2 linked regions of the Homo sapiens genome follow. The gene in region 1 interacts genetically with each later gene. Each region holds a gene or a part of one and is shown on either strand. Other genes may lie near its edges.

What was found.
Region 2: changes in CLPTM1 (region 1) and GBF1 together harm fitness more than expected from each alone (negative genetic interaction), as found in Homo sapiens cells (one study listed by BioGRID).

What each region holds. Positions count from the first base shown.
Region 1 is NC_000019.10:44,989,694-44,993,502, forward strand, and holds the end of CLPTM1 (putative lipid scramblase CLPTM1), read left to right. Parts: intron 1-701; coding exon 702-892; intron 893-1,156; coding exon 1,157-1,252; intron 1,253-1,544; coding exon 1,545-1,680; intron 1,681-2,539; coding exon 2,540-2,707; intron 2,708-2,917; coding exon 2,918-3,204; 3' UTR 3,205-3,648; downstream 3,649-3,809. UniProt on the Homo sapiens protein: Involved in GABAergic but not glutamatergic transmission. Binds and traps GABAA receptors in the endoplasmic reticulum (ER).
Region 2 is NC_000010.11:102,360,260-102,364,068, forward strand, and holds part of GBF1 (Golgi-specific brefeldin A-resistance guanine nucleotide exchange factor 1), read left to right. Parts: coding exon 1-136; intron 137-762; coding exon 763-861; intron 862-1,458; coding exon 1,459-1,653; intron 1,654-2,215; coding exon 2,216-2,405; intron 2,406-2,996; coding exon 2,997-3,137; intron 3,138-3,450; coding exon 3,451-3,539; intron 3,540-3,809. UniProt on the Homo sapiens protein: Guanine-nucleotide exchange factor (GEF) for members of the Arf family of small GTPases involved in trafficking in the early secretory pathway; its GEF activity initiates the coating of nascent vesicles via the localized generation of activated ARFs through replacement of GDP with GTP.

The sequences.
Region 1 (3,809 bases):
CTGTGCTACAGACGTGGTGGCTCAGCCTCCTGTGGCTGCGGTTAGATGCTCAGCCGGGCGGGGTCAAGAGAGGGGTGTCCGTGGTGAGACCAGGGCTCAGAGAGGAGCATGCTGACATGGATCCTTGGCAGCATCTAGGCGGAGCACTGGAAGGAGCTCCAGACTGGAGCCCAGGGCCCTTTTCAGTTTCCTGAGCATGGCTGTGAGCCAGTTCCTTCCCGGTGTCAGGGCAGGGGCCTGGAGGAGGTGGTCTTGAAGTGCATGCCACAGATCTTCCTTCCCAGGGAGGGCGAGCTGGCACCATGGTGTGGCACAGACCCCGCGTCCCTTCAGATTCTGCCATGCCAGGCTGTTTGGCCTCAGGGAAGCAGCTTCCCTGACCAGTCCTTAGCACCTGGCACGTGGTGAGCCCTGTCCATGGCACCAGTCACCGTCACCATCAGTCAAGGGACTGCACCTTGGGGTGCTGGGTGCTGACGTCCTATGGGAGGGCTCCAGGGGTGCCGCCTGTCTGGTGCTCTGGGGGTCACCCAATGAATATGAGAGCCTTCCTGGGAGAGAGGGGTCTCGTTCAGCACCCCTCCTGAGGACCCAGCCCCACCCCAGGGTGTGAGGATGCAGGCCAAGGGGGCCTGAGGGAGCTGCAGTAGGGTCTCAGCACCTCCTCAGCCTCCTGGTTCCCCCCTACCCCCTGCGCACAGATATCCAGTTCTGGAACAGCCGGCAGTCCCTGGAGGGCCTGTCCGTGCGCTCCGTCTTCTTCGGCGTTTTCCAGTCATTCGTGGTCCTCCTCTACATCCTGGACAACGAGACCAACTTCGTGGTCCAGGTCAGCGTCTTCATTGGGGTCCTCATCGACCTCTGGAAGATCACCAAGGTCATGGACGTCCGGGTAAGGCTGGGGCGCCATGCTGTCTCGGGAGCTGCAGGGGTTGGGAGGGGGTAGTGTGGCCCAGCTGGACCCTGGAGCTGGCCCCCGGGGGATTCCCAGCAAGTGCCTCACTCCCAGGACTGAGGGGATTTTCTCACCAGGGGATTTTTTGGGTCACACATGGGGCAGGGGAACTGGGAACGGTGGGGAAGGGCAGGGGCTGGTTCTGGCTTGTGGGGTGGGAGCCAGCGTAGCAACTGACCATGGCACCCACCTCATCCACAGCTGGACCGAGAGCACAGGGTGGCAGGAATCTTCCCCCGCCTATCCTTCAAGGACAAGTCCACGTATATCGAGTCCTCGACCAAAGTGTATGATGATGTGAGTGTCCTGCACAGTGGGCCCCTGGGGGTGGTCTCCAGGTACCACGTATCCCTGAGGCACCCGGGGCCGGCCATCTGTCTGCCGGACCCATGCTTTACAGCCTGTGCCACATCCTCTGTGTCCCCCATCTGCCATAACTGCTTCCCTGGGCGAGTCCGGAGTCCCCAGGGCTACCTGGAAATTCCCCCTGCCCGGCCTGCCAGACCAGGTGTGGTGGGTGAGGGCGGGGAGCAGGGCTGCCAGGCAGGGCTGAGGAGCTGGCTGACAGCCCCACCCTGTGGCCCCACAGATGGCATTCCGGTACCTGTCCTGGATCCTCTTCCCGCTCCTGGGCTGCTATGCCGTCTACAGTCTTCTGTACCTGGAGCACAAGGGCTGGTACTCCTGGGTGCTCAGCATGCTCTACGGCTTCCTGCTGACCTTCGGTGAGCGGTCCGGCCGCCCCAGGAGAGAGCAGGCCCCATGCTGCGCAGGGCTCACAGCCCCAGTGTAGGAGACAGACCCATCCCCAGACAGGGACAACCTAGGGTGGGCAGAGCTGGGATATAGGGAGGCCCGAGGGCACACATGGCCCCATCTGGGGTCAGAGAGGACTTCAGGGAGGACATGAACAGTACGCTTCAGTCCTCATTCTCAGGGGGCCTTTGTGTCTTGGGAACAAGTAAACAAGTAGGGCCAGGTGCAGTGGCTCACACCTGTTATCCCAATGCTTTGGGAGGCTGAGGCAGGAGGATCACTTGAGCCCAGGAATTCGTGACCAGCCTGGGCAACTTGGCAAGACCCGATCTCTACAAAAAAACACAGAAATTATTGGGGAGTGGTGGTGCGTGCCTGTAGTCCCAGCTACCTGGGAGGCTGAGGTGGGAGGATCCCTTGAGTCCAGGAGGTTGAAGCTGCAGTGAGCCATGATTACGCCACTGCACTCCAGCCTGGGTGACAGAGTGAGACCCTGTCTCAAAAAACAAAAGACCGGGTGAATCACAGCCAATAGTGAGTACTGTGAAGGGCAGAGTGGTGGGAGGATGCACATTAATAGGGGTCCGGGGGCCCCTCTGAGGACAGGACATTTAAACAGAGGCCTCAGATATCCAGGGAGAGAGCTGTGCGGATGTGACAGAAGGCCCCACCAGTGCAGAGGCCGCTGGTAGAGTGTGCCCAGGTATAGGAAGTGGTAGAGTGTGCCCAGGTGTAGGAAGTGGTGAGGGGGCTGGTATGGCCAGTGCAGAGTGCACAGGGGAGAGGTGGGAGAGGCCATCCCTCTGCTCATGGGTGCTCTCACTGCAGGCTTCATCACCATGACGCCCCAGCTCTTCATCAACTACAAGCTCAAGTCTGTGGCCCACCTTCCCTGGCGCATGCTCACCTACAAGGCCCTCAACACATTCATCGACGACCTGTTCGCCTTTGTCATCAAGATGCCCGTTATGTACCGGATCGGCTGCCTGCGGGACGGTGAGGCCCGGTGGGCAGGTGGGAGCTCCCACCGGAACAGGGCCCTGAGGCAGTCTTTAGGGCCCAGGCCTGAGGGGGTGCCACGGCCCCAGATGGGGTGCTCAGTCTGAGGGGGCTCGGCCCCGCCCTTGCATCACGCCCTCTCCACCCAGGCCCACCTGGCTGTGGACGGGCCAGCCCGACCTCACACTGCCTCCCACCCCTCTCCAGATGTGGTTTTCTTCATCTACCTCTACCAACGGTGGATCTACCGCGTCGACCCCACCCGAGTCAACGAGTTTGGCATGAGTGGAGAAGACCCCACAGCTGCCGCCCCCGTGGCCGAGGTTCCCACAGCAGCAGGGGCCCTCACGCCCACACCTGCACCCACCACGACCACCGCCACCAGGGAGGAGGCCTCCACGTCCCTGCCCACCAAGCCCACCCAGGGGGCCAGCTCTGCCAGCGAGCCCCAGGAAGCCCCTCCAAAGCCAGCAGAGGACAAGAAAAAGGATTAGTCGAGACTGGTCCTCACCTGCTCCGGCTCCTGGCGACCACTACCCCTGCGTCCCGGCCCCCTCGCCTCCCCTCCCTGTCGCCCTTTCCCTGGACAGATCAGGCCGGGGCGGTGGGAGGCCCGCCTCAGGTCAGGGCCCAGCGTGTGATGTAGGGGCCGGGGCAGGCCAGGGTTTGTTTGTGGAGGCGCTGTCTGTCCCTCTGTCCCTCTGTGTTTCCAGCCATCTCGCCCTGCCAGCCCAGCACCACTGGGAATCATGGTGAAGCTGATGCAGCGTTGCCGAGGGGGTGGGTTGGGCGGGGGTGGGGCCGGGCCCCCCTACGGGATGCCCACGGCCGTTCATCATCTTGTCCCTCGTCCCCCTACCACACTCCCCCTCCTAGACCGCCGCCCTTTAACACAGTCTGGATTTAATAAATTCATATGGGTGTTTAACTTAAACTCAGCACTGCCCCTCCTCCTCGTGCCTTCCTTCCTCTGTTGCCTTGGACAACAGCTTCCAGCAGGGATGAGGTGGCTTTCCTGGGTCTGGGAGAGTGACCTGACACGGTACGGGACCTGTAAAGGTGGGGATTGTGACCTTGTGTCAAGAACCATACCTGGCCG
Region 2 (3,809 bases), on another chromosome or scaffold:
CGACCGCCATAACTCAGAGGTTATGATTCACATGGGACTGCATTTGCTGACAGTGGCCCTTGAGTCAGCCCCTGTAGCCCAGTGCCAGACCCTCTTGGGCCTCATCAAGGATGAGATGTGCCGTCACTTATTCCAGGTAAGACAAGATTGCTAGAGGGTCTCAGAGCCTCTTTCAAGGGCCAGGGGAACACAGGGAGGTCTGGCTGATTACGCAAAGAGTATAGGACCTAGGAAAGCATCTCCCTCCCAGTTGGCTAGTAGTTTTAGTAAGAGGGTTCCAGTAGTTCCCCAGGGACTCTGGCAGCCAGAGAGAAATATAGGAATGGCTAGATGTAGAGTTCCCTGGAAGCAATGGACCTCAGTGACACCTTCACTCAGTTTGCCTCTTCTGCCTCTCTTGGTTGAGCCATAGTCAGCTTCAGAAACCTCACAGCCGGGCTGGGTGCAGTGGCTCACGCCTGTAATCCCAGCACTTTGGGAGGCCAAGGCGGGCGGATCACGAGGTCAGGAGATTGAGACCAGCCTGACCAATGTGGTGAAACCCAGTCTCTACTAAAAATATCAAATTAGCTGGGCATGGTGACGTGCGCCTGTAATCCCAGCTTCTTGGGAGGCTGAGGAAGGAGAATATCTTAAACCCAGGAGGCAGAGGTTGCAGTGAGCTGAGATTGCGCCACTGCACTCCAGCGTGGGCAACAGAGTGAAACTCCGCCTCAAAAAAAAAAAAAAAAAACTCATGGCCTACCCTGCTCTCATCTCCAGCTACTCAGCATAGAGCGACTAAACCTTTATGCTGCTTCCCTGCGAGTATGCTTCCTACTGTTTGAGAGCATGCGAGAGCACCTCAAGTTCCAAATGGAGGTGAGTTTCTTGATGTGGAAAGAAAAGGGGGAAAAAAAATAGGGAGATATATGGCATCTTCAGTGGGGCCAGCTCTATCATGCTACAGGGGTAGGATTTAGGGACTTCCTATAGGAGAGTCCTTTTAGCCTCCAGAGTTCGGTTCAATCAACTGGCCTCTTTTGTGGAAAAGTTAAAAGGAGACCAAAGGAAACTGGCTGACCCCAAATATGAGAACTGCCAGGTAACCTTACCATGAATAGGGACAGCTCTTCTGCCCAGCAGTTACTCTGCAACACAGGTAGGTAAGTCAAGCCAGCATTGTCACTAAATTGCTAAAAGGAACTCTAAATAGGACCAGGTCATGTTCACATAGCACAAAAGGGCAAGAGGCAACTTGTCTGGGACCAGGTATGTGGTAGAGAGCCAGGCCTTATCCCCCAACATGGAGGCCAAAGAAGAGATATATTTAGGGGATGGAATACCTTTGGGTGTCTCTTAATACATGCCTCTAGGCTGGGCTTCTGCATCCTGTTTAATGTTTTTCCTGTCTAATTTTTTCTCTTCCTATCTTGAATCCTTTCCCCACCCAAATGGCAATTACTGGGTTATTGCCAGATGTACATCAAAAAGCTTATGGAGATCATCACTGTGGAGAACCCCAAGATGCCTTATGAGATGAAGGAGATGGCACTGGAGGCCATTGTGCAGCTCTGGCGCATCCCCAGCTTTGTCACAGAGCTCTACATCAACTATGATTGTGACTACTACTGTTCCAACCTCTTTGAGGAACTCACAAAGCTGCTGTCCAAGGTGCTGAGCACTATAACTGGCTTCTAGGAAAAAACGCATTATAAAGGAAATCTCCCTGGTGGTAGTGAGGATGTTACATACAGAGAGGGGAACACTTGAGAGCTGGGAAATAGAAGAAAGGCATTTTCTTTTCTTTTCTTTTTTTTTTTTTTTTTTTTTTTTGAGATGGAGTCTCACTCTGTTGCCCAGGCTGGAGTGCAGTGGCGCGATCTCGGCTCACTGCAAGCTCCACCTCCCGGGTTCACACCATTCTCCTGCCTCAGCCTCCCGAGTAGCTGGGACTACAGGTGCCCACCACCACGCCCGGCTAATTTTTTGTATTTTTAGCAGAGACGGGGTTTCACCATGTTAGCCAGGATGGTCTCGATCTCCTGACCTTGTGATCCACCCGCCTCGGCCTCCCAAAGTGCTGGGATTACAGGCATGAGCCACCACGCCCGGCCAGAAAGACGTTTTCTAAGGGCAATGTACAAGTTAGAAGAAGTTTTGGAAATTTTAGAAAATGATCAAAGTGTAAAGTGTTCTCCTAACTACAAGTCCAATTGATCTGTTTACTTTCCAGAATGCCTTCCCTGTGTCTGGTCAACTCTATACAACACACCTACTATCTCTTGATGCCCTATTGACAGTGATTGACAGCACCGAGGCCCACTGCCAGGCTAAAGTCCTCAACAGCCTCACCCAGCAAGAGAAGAAGGAGACAGCCAGACCAAGCTGTGAGATAGTAGATGGCACCCGAGAAGCTAGCAATAGTGAGAGGCATTTCTTTCTTTGATGAACCCAGTGTTCTATGCTTATCCCTTCTCTACTCTCTGAGTCGTTTTTCCTGTCCCCATATCACTTCCCCTGGGATGCTCCCAATTCTGTTTCTGGGCTTTGGCAGTTTAAATCACAGGCCAGTCAGGCAGATTAGTAGAACTCATAGCCTTCTCCCTTTTTCCTCCTCCCCACTTTGGTTTTTTACAGAATTATTATTTCTTTATGGCAAGAGAAGAGAACAGAGATTAAAGAATATAGGATTTCTGTCTCTGAAAGCTCCAGGTCCCACCATCCCTCATCCCCAATATCTGCCTCCACTCTAATTAGTCCTCTCTAGCTCCCCCTTGAAATTTGAGGTTGCAGAAGATCAGGGAAAGTGACTGGGTAATCTCTTCATTAAATTAGAGAATCTAATGCTTGGCTGGGACAGGGACTACTTATTTTGGCTTGGGTTTGTCCTGCTCAGGGCTGGCGCCCTGTGCAGGAACCATGCAGGTCTTCTGGGCTTGGGATTTGATCTATCCTGCAGCTCTGCTTGGCTTCATACCCTATAAGTCTTCACGTATCTTCTTCTCTCTTACCAGCTGAGAGAACTGCCAGCGATGGGAAAGCTGTAGGCATGGCCTCAGACATCCCAGGCCTGCATCTGCCAGGTGGAGGGCGGCTGCCACCAGAACATGGGAAATCAGGATGCAGTGATCTGGAGGAAGCTGTTGACTCTGGGGGTGGGTACTGGGTGTCCATGACCCTAAGCTCCTCACCTGGAGGGCCTGGTGAAGAGCAGAGGGAGGGAGCAGACACCTAGGATAGTAACTAAGCAAGCCTTGGTAGCCCGCCTCGCCTTCAGACTCAGAGAGAGGGAAGCAAACATATGGACCCTCAGTTGATAGGACTTCCAGGGAAGTGGAAGACTGGTGAGGACAAGATTTCTGAGGCTCCTTCTTGAAACTGGGGAGTATATTGGTGACCTTCCAAAAGTCCTTATCTGGGTAAAAAAAGGTGTTACAGATATTTCCCCCCTCTTCTTCCTACTCCTAGCTGACAAAAAGTTTGCCCGGAAGCCACCCCGATTTTCCTGTCTCCTGCCAGATCCACGGGAACTAATTGAAATTAAAAACAAAAAGAAGGTACATACATGTATTCCCCAGCCTCTGTCCACCTCTGTCTGGGTGTCCAGTGTTGTAGGGTTTCCATCTCAGAAGATGAAGGAGAGTCTAGCACCTCATTGTACAGCTTCCTGAGGCCAGTCTTTGGGCTTGTTGGGACTTCAGCAACTCCCATTTGAAGCCCTTCCCTTACTCCTAAGCTATGTAGTTGAGCATACCCTATGTATGCCCCTGCGCAAATGCTGTACCAGTTGAGAGCCAAGTGTCACTAGTGGCAGTGACAGGAGCCTT